Linked DNA regions of Homo sapiens. The main gene of each other region encodes a partner of the protein of the gene in region 2 in a complex. Each region holds a gene or a part of one and is shown on either strand. Other genes may lie near its edges. The genes, in order: TAF8, TAF11 and TAF13.

What was found.
Region 1: TAF11 (region 2) and TAF8 share a complex: the UniProt entries of both Homo sapiens proteins name them as parts of the TFIID basal transcription factor complex.
Region 3: TAF11 (region 2) and TAF13 share a complex: the UniProt entries of both Homo sapiens proteins name them as parts of the TFIID basal transcription factor complex.

What each region holds. Positions count from the first base shown.
Region 1 is NC_000006.12:42,056,974-42,060,697, reverse strand, and holds part of TAF8 (transcription initiation factor TFIID subunit 8), read right to left. Parts: intron 3,310-3,724; coding exon 3,185-3,309; intron 1-3,184. UniProt on the Homo sapiens protein: The TFIID basal transcription factor complex plays a major role in the initiation of RNA polymerase II (Pol II)-dependent transcription.
Region 2 is NC_000006.12:34,885,243-34,889,326, forward strand, and holds the start of TAF11 (transcription initiation factor TFIID subunit 11), read right to left. Parts: upstream 2,801-4,084; 5' UTR 2,716-2,800; coding exon 2,545-2,715; intron 790-2,544; exon of another isoform or gene 1-789. UniProt on the Homo sapiens protein: The TFIID basal transcription factor complex plays a major role in the initiation of RNA polymerase II (Pol II)-dependent transcription.
Region 3 is NC_000001.11:109,065,780-109,069,503, forward strand, and holds part of TAF13 (transcription initiation factor TFIID subunit 13), read right to left. Parts: intron 454-3,724; coding exon 356-453; intron 1-355. UniProt on the Homo sapiens protein: The TFIID basal transcription factor complex plays a major role in the initiation of RNA polymerase II (Pol II)-dependent transcription.

The DNA.
Region 1 (3,724 bases), 7.2 Mb from region 2:
ACTTATATAGCCAATTAAAGCCCGTTGGGGAATCTGGCCTTATACCCCGTCCACACAGAGTCTCTGTACAAGGTTCCTGACCTGTGGTAAGTAAAGAATGTCACTTTCAAACAGGCTCAGGAACCCCAAGCTATCTTGGGACCTCAAGAGGAGACAAATTTGCCCAACTCATAGGTATTTGAGGGTACAAACCCATGGCTGGGCTCGGCTTTTAAAAAGTCTTATCTGAGATTCTTCATGGAACAGAGTTCTATCAAAGCCAATTTAAAAAGTCTAAGTGAAAAATAATTATTCTTGCTGCACTTTATGCAAATAATCGGGCCAAGTACAGTAAGACTAAAGTTTATTTTGTAAACAAATCAGTTGTATCATGATTTGTTTTTAATAAAAATGGGGACTGGAGAGAGAAAAATTATGCTTCAAAAGAAAAACTATAGTACACTGTTGTTAGCTGTTCTTGAGGTTTTTTCTGCAGTTTAGACTAAATTCTAAAGTCTTTGTGGGTTAGAAGTCCCCAAACTAGTGCTTCCAAATCTTTGCTTTTAAAATTGGGAATTGTACTCCTCATCCTAGGACTCGTTATTTACCTTATAGTGGGCTGTTTCACTTAAACACTGTAGTAAAACTACAGAGTACTAATGTTTGTGCCATGCAAGCCATGAACGCCTAGCCAGGCCTGCATGAGTACACTCAGACAGTTGCAAACCAGTTCCACTCTTCTCACCTTCGGGTTCACTCCCATTCCCATAATGTGCCCTGTCAGCAGGAAGAAGCCAGAGCAATTGATAGCCTTTTCCCATCTTCACAGCCTACACCTTAAGATTAAGGTGTTATAAAACCCAAAGGGAAGGACTGAAACCACGTTTGCAAAATTATGACTGAGACGGTGAAAGAGATCTAACTTAACTGACTCCATCTTGCTTCTAACCTCCAAGCTGTCCTTGTTCATTCCTGGGCGGAGGCTAAACTAACTTTGGGAGAAACTTAGTTTAGAGTTTAAACAAAGACAGTGACACTCCTTTTCCCAAAGAAGACCTCCATCTTGCCTGGAGACTAGATTGCCTTTGTAGGACTAACATTAGCCACAAGATTGGAAATTATGGTTTAGAAGTCATGCAGCTGGAGGCTACAAGATTCTGACCCTCCCTATACTGTTCCTAAGATCAGTGTTGAGACACCTTGCACTTGATGGATCAGCTGGCACCACCCAGATCAATAAACTGGCTCATCTGATCTTGTGGCCCCCACCCAGGAACTGACTCAGTGCAAGAAGACAGCTCTGAGTCCCTATGATTTCTTTTTTTTTTTTTTTCTTGAGACAAAGTCTCGCTCTGTCGCCCAGGCTGGAGTGCAATGGTGCAATCACGGCTCACTGCAAGCTCTGCCTCCCGGGTTCACACTATTCTCCTGCCTCAGCCTCCCAAGTAGCTAGGACTACAGGTGCCCGCCACCATGCCCGGCTGATTTTTTGTATTTTTAGTAAAGACGGGGTTTCACCATGTTGGCCAGGATGGTCTCGATCTCCTGACCTCATGATCCCCCCACCTCGGCCTCCCAAAGTGCTGGGATTACAGGCGTGAGCCACCTTGCCCGGCCCTGAGTCCCTATGGTTTCATCTCTGACCAATCAGCACTCCTGGCTCACTGGCTTCCCCCGACCTACCACATTATCCTTAAAAACTCTGCTCCCCGAATGCTGGGGAAGACTGATTTGAGTAATAATAAAACTCCAGTCTCCCCCTCTGCCCCCCAACCACACACAAAAAAGAATGCCATGTGAAGACAGAAAGCTGGAGTGATGCATCTATGAGCCAAGAAATGCCAAAGAATGCTGGCCAACCACCAGAAGCTAGGAAGAGGCAAGGAGGGACTCCCCTACAGGTTTCAGAGGGAGCATGACACCTTGCTTTTAGACTTCTAGCCTCCAGAACTGTGAGACAATAAATTTCTGTTGTTCTAAGTCACCTGGTTTGTGGCATTTTGTTACAGCAGCCCAGGAAACTAATAGAGAGATCTGACCAAGGGCAAGGGCAAGGGCTATGTTGCATTAGCTGGGCAGCTACTATTCCCTCTCCCCCACCCTAAGGTATGGAAAAATGCCCAGAGGACGTGAGGGCTTGCCATCACTATATGGTATGCAGGCAGAAGCAAAGGAAGTGTGGGAGGGCACCTTCCCAACGGAAGGTAAAACTGCCATTCAGGCAAATTAGAACACATTCAAACCACAGAGGATAATTCATCTTCTCCTCATTCAGACCTAGAGCTCAGAGTGATAAGTTCCATTTCATTATCATTACTAATTTTTATTTATTTCTTTTTGAGACAGAGTCTTGCTCTGTCGCCTAGGCTGGAGTGCAGTGGCGCAATCTCAGCTCACTGCAACCTCTGTCTCCCAGGTTAGATTCTCCTGCCTCAGCCTCCTGAGTAGCTGGAACTACAGGTATGTGCCACCACGCACAGCTAATTTTTGTAATTTTAGTAGAGATGGGGTTTCACTGTGTTGGCCAGGCTGGTCTTGAATTCCTGACCTCAGGTGATCCATCTGCCTCGGCCTTCCAAAGTGTTGGGATTAAAGGTATGAGCCACTGCTCCCGGCCATTACTAAATATTTTTAAAGTAACTTTTCCCCCAATTGAAAAAATAATTTTCCTATTATGGAAAATTTGGAAAACTCAGAAAAGTAAACACAAAACAAAATGACCTATAATCTCAACCCAAAATTACTATGAACATTTAGTGGAATACCTTTTCAGTCTTGTTCCTATGCGGCTATGTACTTTTGTGTTTTAGTAGGACAGGCAATACTGGGGCCAGCTTCAATTTCTTTGTTAATTATACTTTAGCTGGCAAACTTGAGAACATAATTCTCATTTGCCAAATTGTTTCTCAATTATGAAAGATAATCTGAATTCTTTTTTTTTTCTTTATTTATTTATTTTTCAAATGAGACAGGGTCTTGCTCTGCTGCCCAGGCTGGTCTTGAACTCCCAGGCTCAAGTGATCCTCCTGCCTCGGCCTCCTAAAATGCTGGGATTACAGGTGTGAGCCAATGTGCCCGGCCACATTCTGAGTTTTGAACCACTCTTTCATCAACAAGCTTTTGGACTGGACTCTGCCACGTGACAGTCAGTAGGAACTGACTCCGTGCTTTACACCACGCGCAGTCCCAGTGCTTCATCACTCACCGGAGTTTTGATGTAGGTGTGGGGATCAGGGAACTCAGGAAAATGGCTGGGGATGTGCGGCGGGTGGGGTCGGTTCTGCCCTGCAGTGAGGGCCTTGGGGGTCACTGGCTGATTGGTCACCGGAGCTGCAACAGAGTCACAACTGATTACCCCTCCACCCAAGACCCTGATTTCTACAGATTATGGTCTCTCCCCAAAGCCTCCTTTTCTCAAAAAAATGCCAGACCTCAATTTTCTAAACAAGTTGCATTTTGTATTTCAATCGATAAAAGGTCTTTGATGGCTTACAATGCCCAGCCCTGCTGGCTAATCTTGGTTGACGTTCCCTTTGACAACAATCTGCCCACAAGCCTCTTAGGTAGAGGTGGGTGGCTGTGGCCACAGTAACTACGTAAAACAGCATGCTGAGGAGCTACGCAGGTTACATGGGCTGCTGGTTCTCTTTTCAGAGACCTTGGATAACAAAAAGGAACAATGAGCTGGGGACATTAAGTGTGAGCTTAATCATAACAAGAGGGGATTGAAAATGGCACCTTCCAC
Region 2 (4,084 bases):
TTTCTTGAGTTAGGTGCTTATTTGCAATATCTTCTGGCTGTTAATAAAAATATGTAAGGCTATATATTTTTCTTTAAATAAAGCTTTGGCCAAATCCCATATACTTTGATAAAGTGTTCTATTAATTTCTTTAGTCTAAAGGCTATTTAAAAAATAGTTTAAAATTTCCAGGGGGTTAGTTCTTTTTTGGTGGGGGAGAAGCTTTTTGTAGTTAATTTCAAGTTTAATGCATTACATTAACAAGATGTGGCCTGTTATGATTTCTACTTTTAAGAGTTCATATTTTTCTTTGTGGTCTGGTACATGATCGATTTTTAAAAGTGTTTCAGAAACAACATAATTTTATCCTCTGTTCGGTGCAAATTTAGATATGTAGTGAGCCCTCTGTGTACTAAGCTAATTATTCAAATCCTTGCTGTCCTTGACACCTGTTTTAAAGTTTCCTTCTTGGCCAGGCATGGTGGCTGCCACCTGTAATCTTAGCACTTTGGGAAGCTGAGGCAGGAGGATTGCTTGAGCCCAACGAGTTGGAGACCAGACTGGGCAACATAATAAGACCTTGTCTCTACCAAAACAATATTTAAAAAACCTTTAGCTGGCCGGGTGCGGTGGCTCATGCCTATAATCCCAGCACTTTGGGAGGCCGAGGCGGATGGATCATGAGGTCAGGAGTTCAAGACCAGGCTGGGCAACTTGTGAAACTTGTGAAACCTCAGCTCTACTAAAAATACAAAAATTAGCTGGGCGCGGTGGCACGTGTCTGTAATCCCAGCTACTGGGGAGGCTGAGGCAGGAGAATCGCTTGAGCCTGAGAGGCGGAGGTTGCAGTGAGCCGAGATTGCGCCATTGCACTCCAGCCTGGGCGGCAGAGCGAGACTCTGTCTCAAAAACGAAACAAAACAAAACAAAAACTTTAGATGAGCGTGGTGCAGCATGCCTGCAGTCCCAGTTACTGGGGAGGCTGGGATAAGAGGATTGCTTGAGCCCAGGAGGCAGAGACTGTGCCACTGCACTCCAGGCTGGGTGACAGAGTGAGACCTTGTCTCAACAAACAAAAACTGCCTTAAAGGAGCTTGCAGTGAGCCAAGATCACGCCACTGCACACTCCAGCCTGGGCAACAGAGCGAGACTCGGTCTCAAAACAAAAAACAAAAAACAAAAAACAAACAAAAAACCTGCCTTAAAATACTTTTGTCAAATGTTCTCTTTTCCTTTTTCTTTCTTTTCTTTTCTTTTTTTTTTTCCGAGACGGAGTCTCTGGTACCCAAGCTGGAGTGCAGTGGTGCGATCTCGGCTCACTGCAATCTCCGCCTCCCAGGTTCAAGCGATTCTTGTGCCTCAGCCTCCTAAGTAGCCGGGATTACAGGCGCCCGCCACCATGCCCAGCTAATTTTTGTATTTTTAGTAGAGACGGGGTTTCGCCATGTTGGCCAGGCTGGTCTCAAACTCCTGACATCAGGCGATCCACCCACCTCGGCCTCCCAAAGTGCTGGGATTACAGGCGTGAGCCACTACGCCCAGACAAATTTTCTCTTTTTCTAAAAGTTTGTACTTTATACATTTTGATGCAACTTTATGCTCTGAAAGGCTATTTCCATCTAATCTACTGTTCACCCACGATCTCTTAAATCCCTTCTAGCTGTAAGACCCCAAGATTCTACTTCTAGAAATGTAATCCTGAGAACGATGAGTTTCTGGTCCTGACCGATACTCAGCTAGGCAACACTGCTGAACTCTCTGTAGCATAAAAACACCAGACCCAATTGATGGGTCCCTGATCACCGGGTGCGGTGGCTCACGCCTGTAATCCTAGCACTTTGGGAGGCCGAGGCGGGCGGATCACGAGGTCAGGAGTTCCAGACCAGCCTGGCCAACATGGTAAAACCCCGTCTCTACTAAAAATACAAAAATTAGCTGGGCATGGTGGTGTGCGCCTGTAATCCTAGCTACTCGGGAGGCTGAAGCAGGAGAATCGCGTGAACCCAGGAGGCGCAGGTTGCAGTGGGCCAGAGATCGCGCCATTGTTCTCCAGCCCGGGCGACTCTCAGGTTAAATCGTGTTCGATATAAAAGTCTATATCGATATAGACTTTTCGATATAAAAGTCTATCTCCCTTTGACAGGTCTGATCGACCCTCCTTCCTATAAAGACAAAAGTTGTCTTAACATCTAAGAGGAACCATATTGCGGTGAAAGGGGTGCTACGAATCCTGGGTTTTAGCTCTTGCACTACGTCTCAGTGTGACATTGGATCCCAATTTCCTCACCACCAAAGCCAACGGGCTATTATAACTCCCTTAGAAGTAGCTTTAATCCCTAAAGACAAGACTAAAAATATTAACAGTGCTTGAGCCTCTGGAACCGAACCAGCACTGGAGTTTTGTTTGGTCGTCCCCTCTCTTCCCCCTCAAGATTAACGATCTGGAGGGAATTCTGGTGAGTTCGAGTTCTCGTAACTTGTTAGGGACTAACCAGAAGCCCGGCGAGCAGCCAGTAACACAATCTCTGGGTATTCCTTCAGCCTCATCAGTACATCTCTTCCTACCTCGCCTTCCTCCGCTGCAGCTTCTTTCAAGTCCACATCTGCGTCTCCGTCAGTTTCCTCTGGGATTCCATCGGTGTCGGTAGCCCCCGGGTCCCCGGGCACAGCGGCCGTCTCATCCGACTCCCCTGTCTCTCCACCTTTGTCGGAGGGCGACTCGTGGGCATCGTCCATCACGGATAGGATTGGAGGGGAGAGGAGATCGCGGAGATGCCTGAGGCAGAAGCTCGGAAACCCGAGCTGCACAGGCCAGGATCTTACTTCCTGTCGTCGCGCAGCGATGACATCACCCCTACCGCTCTCCTGAGGGGTCATTTTGAGGCGCGCGTAGAGGACTAGAGGACTCATTTTAACTTTGGTTTGGCGACAGTGGGAAGCGGGAAAATTGGACGTAAAGAGCTCAGACTATGGATCCTCCTCGCTAGGAAACCAGCACTTGTGAAGGAGCGCAGTTTTGTTTACTAAATAACTTTTTCCTTTTCGCCTGTCTAAAAATGCAATGTCAGTTAATCCCTTCGTTAACCCCTCAGAGTAAAGTTGGGGGACTGGGAGAAAACTCAGTTCCGTTGTATGGCGGTGTCGTGGAATGAGGCTCCCCGGGACTGGTAAACTTTCAGGCAAGGACTCAACCTTGTATATTTCAACTGGCCCGAAACCGCGGGCCTGTGTGTACATAGAATTGCTAGCATTTCCCCTCCATTCCGCAAGCACCTTAACAACAAAAAGTCATATAGCTCGAGCAGAATTTATCCAATTCATTTATTCATCCACAACTATTGACTGCCTACTTCGATTTAGAAACAGTGCTAGTACCAGGGAACAAAACACACATAGTTTCTACCCAATTAAATGATTTTTTTCAGTTCGCCAGTACTGAAGATTGAGGTTTGTTTTTACAAGTCTGACACTTTTCTATCAGTTTGGTTAATCTCATTAAAACTAAGAGGAAAGCCTAAAGAGAGGAAGGTGTCTCCTTTGAACGTTTCACTTTAATGAACTAGTTCACGTACTGGGAGGATGAAGTGGTGAGGATATTTCTGTTTTAAAATTTTCTTCTCTTCCCTCATTGAGATACGAGGGGGAGGGCGTTTTATTCACCTGGGTATGACTAGGTCCCCGCACCTATTACATATTTAATTTATGCGTGCTGAAAGAATGGACTTGGAAATGTAGGTGCGCGTTACATTTATCTCTTTGTTTCTACGCTGCCTGGACGAATTACCGTATTTCCTGTCCCAGGAGCTCCCAAAACCTTTGGGGAAGGAGCGCACTTCGGGAGGCGCGTACAGGTGGGCCTGTTTGTCCCTTTCCACCTGCATAATGGGGGCCCACAAGGCGCTGTCCCCATGCCCCGAGAGGCGTGTCTCGGCACAGCAAAGTCCACCTGCGCTGGTCCGCGGAGCCCCGCCCAGCTAGGTGAGCTAGGGGGCGGGGCGCGGGGGCGCGGTGACGCGTGACGCCGGATCCCGGAAGTGACGCGCTCGTGGGGAAAAGGCAGGGAGGGGGTGGTGTCCCCAGCCGGTTTGGGGGGTGCGTTGCCCGG
Region 3 (3,724 bases), on a different chromosome or scaffold from region 2:
GGTGTGGTGATGCATGCCTGTAATCCCAGCTCCTCGGAGGCTGAGGCAGGAGAATCCCTTGAATCCGGGAGACGGAGGTTGCAGTGAGCCAAGATCGTGCCATTGCACTCCAGTCTGGGCAACAAGAACGAAACTCCATCTCAAAAAAAAAAAAAAACAAAAGGAAGAAGGGGGGATAGAATATACATGTATAACCTCCATCCTCAATGATAAATAGTAACCAATAACTTCTGCAAACAAGCACTCAAATGGATAGCTTATTTCAAAGGGATGCCATAAGTTCTAGTCTTACCTAAAGTTTAATATTTCAAATCTATTCTTCAATTAACTAAGACCAGTTAGGAAAGAATCTTACCATTTCAGTGATAAACTCTATGACAAGATCTTCAAGAATATCCACTGACTCAGTATAAGGATTCTGGTCATCCCCAAAGCCATACATCATACATCGCACTGTAAAAGAACAATCACTTACTTTTGTTTACTTTTACAGATTTAACAATTTGATACTTTAAAAAAATAAAGTAGAAATGAACCAAGTTATAGATAATATTGGTATGAAAACATATTTACATCGTATTTGTTATCTCCAAGTATGGATTCTTGTGTAAAAGGTTTAAGAACAGTCTGATGACCAACTGTTCCCACGTAGCCTCCAGCAAAACTCTTCCTTCCTCCCACCTACTGAACCCTAAGGTAAACAGTCTTTTCCTAATCTCTAGCATCTACTTACCAGTCCCTGCCCCCAGCAGAACACCTTTAAGTAGGAAACTCTGGCAAAGGACAGGACAGACAGCAACAGCTTAGCCTTTTTTGGAGGTGGTTTTTGTGTGTGGGCATGGCAGTGGGGCGTTGGAAAAACGGCAGACTCTTTACTGATATTACCATAGGGGAAAAGACATGAGAGACAGTTCTCCAAATACTTTTTTTGTTTGTTTGTTTGTTTGTTTTTCTTGAGACAGAGTCTCGCTCTGTCGCCCAAGCTGGAGTGCAGTGGCACCATCTTGGCTCACTGCAAGCTCCATCGCCTCCTGGGTTCACACCATTCTCCTGCCTCAGCCTCCCGAGTAGCTGGGACTACAGGCACCCACCACCACGCCCGGCTAATTTTTTGTATTTTTAGTAGAGAAGGGGTTTCACTGTGTTAGCCAGGATGGTCTCGATGATCTGACCTGGTGATCTGCGTGCCTCAGCCTCCCAAAGTGCTGGGATTACAGGCGTGAGCCACCGCGCCCAGCCCCAAATCTGTTCTTATAGGAAGAAACAGGGTACTCAAAATGAGAAAGCAGAGGGCTTACTACAAGGAATTTTGACATTTCCTAGATCAATACAACTGCAGCAAAGCCCTTTCAGGCTTCATCTGAAGAAACCATAGGAAATGCAAAGGATAAGTCTAGGTCGGGTGCAGTGGCCCACGCCTGTAAACCCAGCACTTTGGGAGGCCCAGGCAAGTAGACTGCTTGAGCTCAGGAGTTTGAGACAAGCCTGGGCAACATGGCGAAACCCTGTCTCTACATAAAAAACAAAAATTAGCTGGGCGTAGGCCTGGATGGTGGCTCACGCCTGTAATCCCAGCACTTCAGGAGGCTGAGGCAGATCACTTGAGGCCAGAAGTTTGAGATCAGCCTGGCCAACAAGGTGAAAACCTGTTTCTACTAAAAAAAAAAAAAAAACACAAAAGTCAGCTGGGGGTGTTGGCACATGCCTATAATCCCAGCTACTCGGGAGGCTGAGGCATGAGAATCGCTTGAATCCAGGAGGCAGAGGTTGCAGTGAGCTGAGAATGCGCCACTGCACTCCAGCCTGGGTGACAGAGGGAGGCTGTGTCTCAAAAATAATAATAATAATAAGAGAGACTGTGTCTCAAAAATAATAAGAGAGAAGTCTAATACAGACAAATAAAAATAACTGCCAAAAGATAAAACATATATAGCCCTTATTATATGCCAGGTACTGTCTTAAGTCCTTTACATATATAACTCATTTAATCCTCACAATGATCCTTTAAGGTAGAAACTATTGATTATCCCCATTCTATAGATGAGAAAATTAAAGCACTGCAGTAACTGATTTACCCAAGGTCACAAAGCTAGTAAGAGATGGAACCTGAGTTTGAACCCAGCTGATCTGGTTCGCGTCTTTACTCATACCCACAACAGCATCGCACTTGTTGGTAGTTGTAGTTTAGGGCAGACAGGATCCGTGTGAATTCTTTTTTTTGCTCTCCTTTTTTGAGACAGTCTTGGCTCTGTCGCCCAGGCTGGAGTGGTGTTGCAGTACAGCTTGCTGCAGCCTCAACCTCCCTGGCTCACGTGAGCAGCTGAGACTACAGACACATGCCACTATGCCTGGCTAATATGTGGGGTTTTTTTTGAAACAGAAGTGTCACTGTGTCACCCAGGGTGGAGTGCAATGGCACGATCTCAACTCACTGCAACCTCCACCTCCCGGATTCAAGAGATTCTCAAACTTTAGCCTCCAAGTAGCTGGGATTACAGCCATGCGCTACCACACCCAGCTAATTTTTTTGTATTTTTTAGTAGAGTCAGGGTTTTGCCACGTTGCCCAGATAGTCTTGAATTCCTGGCCTCAAGTGATCTGCCTGCCTTGGCCTCCCAAATTATTGGGATTACAGGCCTAAGCTACCACACCCAGCCATTTAAAATTTTTTCTAGAGACAGGGGTCTTGCTATGTTGCCTAGGCAGTTTTTGAACTGGTTTCTAACTATTTATTTATTTTTATTTTTTCGTAGAGACAGGGTCCCACCTTGTTGCCCAGGCTGGTCTTGAACTCCTGGACTCAAGTAATCCTCCTGCCTTGGCCTCCCAAAGTGCTAGGATTACAGGTGTGAGCCACCACACCCAGCTGAGATCCACAGAGGTTCTTATCCTATCGCCTATAAACTCCCAGTCCAGAGACAAGCTTTAAGAAGTCCTTGAAGGCCAGCGCGGTGGTTCACGCCTATAATTCCAGCACTTTGGGAGGCCAAGGTGGGCGGATCACCTGAGGTCGGGAGTTTGAGACCAGCCTGACCAACATGGTGAAACCCCGTCTCTACTAAAAATACAAAAATTAGGGGGGCGTGGTGGCACGCACCTGTAATCCCAGCTATTTGGGAGGCTGAGGCAGGAGAATAGCTTGAACCCAGGAGGCAGAGGTTGCGGAGAGCTGAGATCATGCCAATGCATTCCAACCTGGGCGAAAGAGGGAGACTCTGCCTCAAAAAATAAAAAAAGAAGTCCTTGAGACTACCCTGAAATCATACGGAAAAATTTTATACATTATCTGTACATGGGCATTTTTCTGGGAATAATTATAACTTTTATCAGATTATCAAAGGGGTATATGTAAATGGTAAGAAATGCTGTCAAATGCTGGAAGTGTTCTGTATCTTGATCTTAGTAGTGATTACAAGTGTGTGAGTGTGTGTGTGTGTGTGTGCGCACATGTATACAGTTGTCCCTTAGTATCCTTGGGAGCTTGGTTCCAGGACCTCCCGTGGATACCAAAATCTGCAGATGCTCAAATCCCAGATATAAAATGGCATAGTATTTGCATATAAGCTAAATACATCCTATGTATATTTTAAATCATCTCTAGGTTACTTACAATACCTAATACAATGTAAATGCTATGTAAATAGTTGTTATACTATACTGTTTAGGGAATAGTGACAAGGAAAAAAGTCTATACATATTCAATAGAGGCACAGTTTTTTTTTCT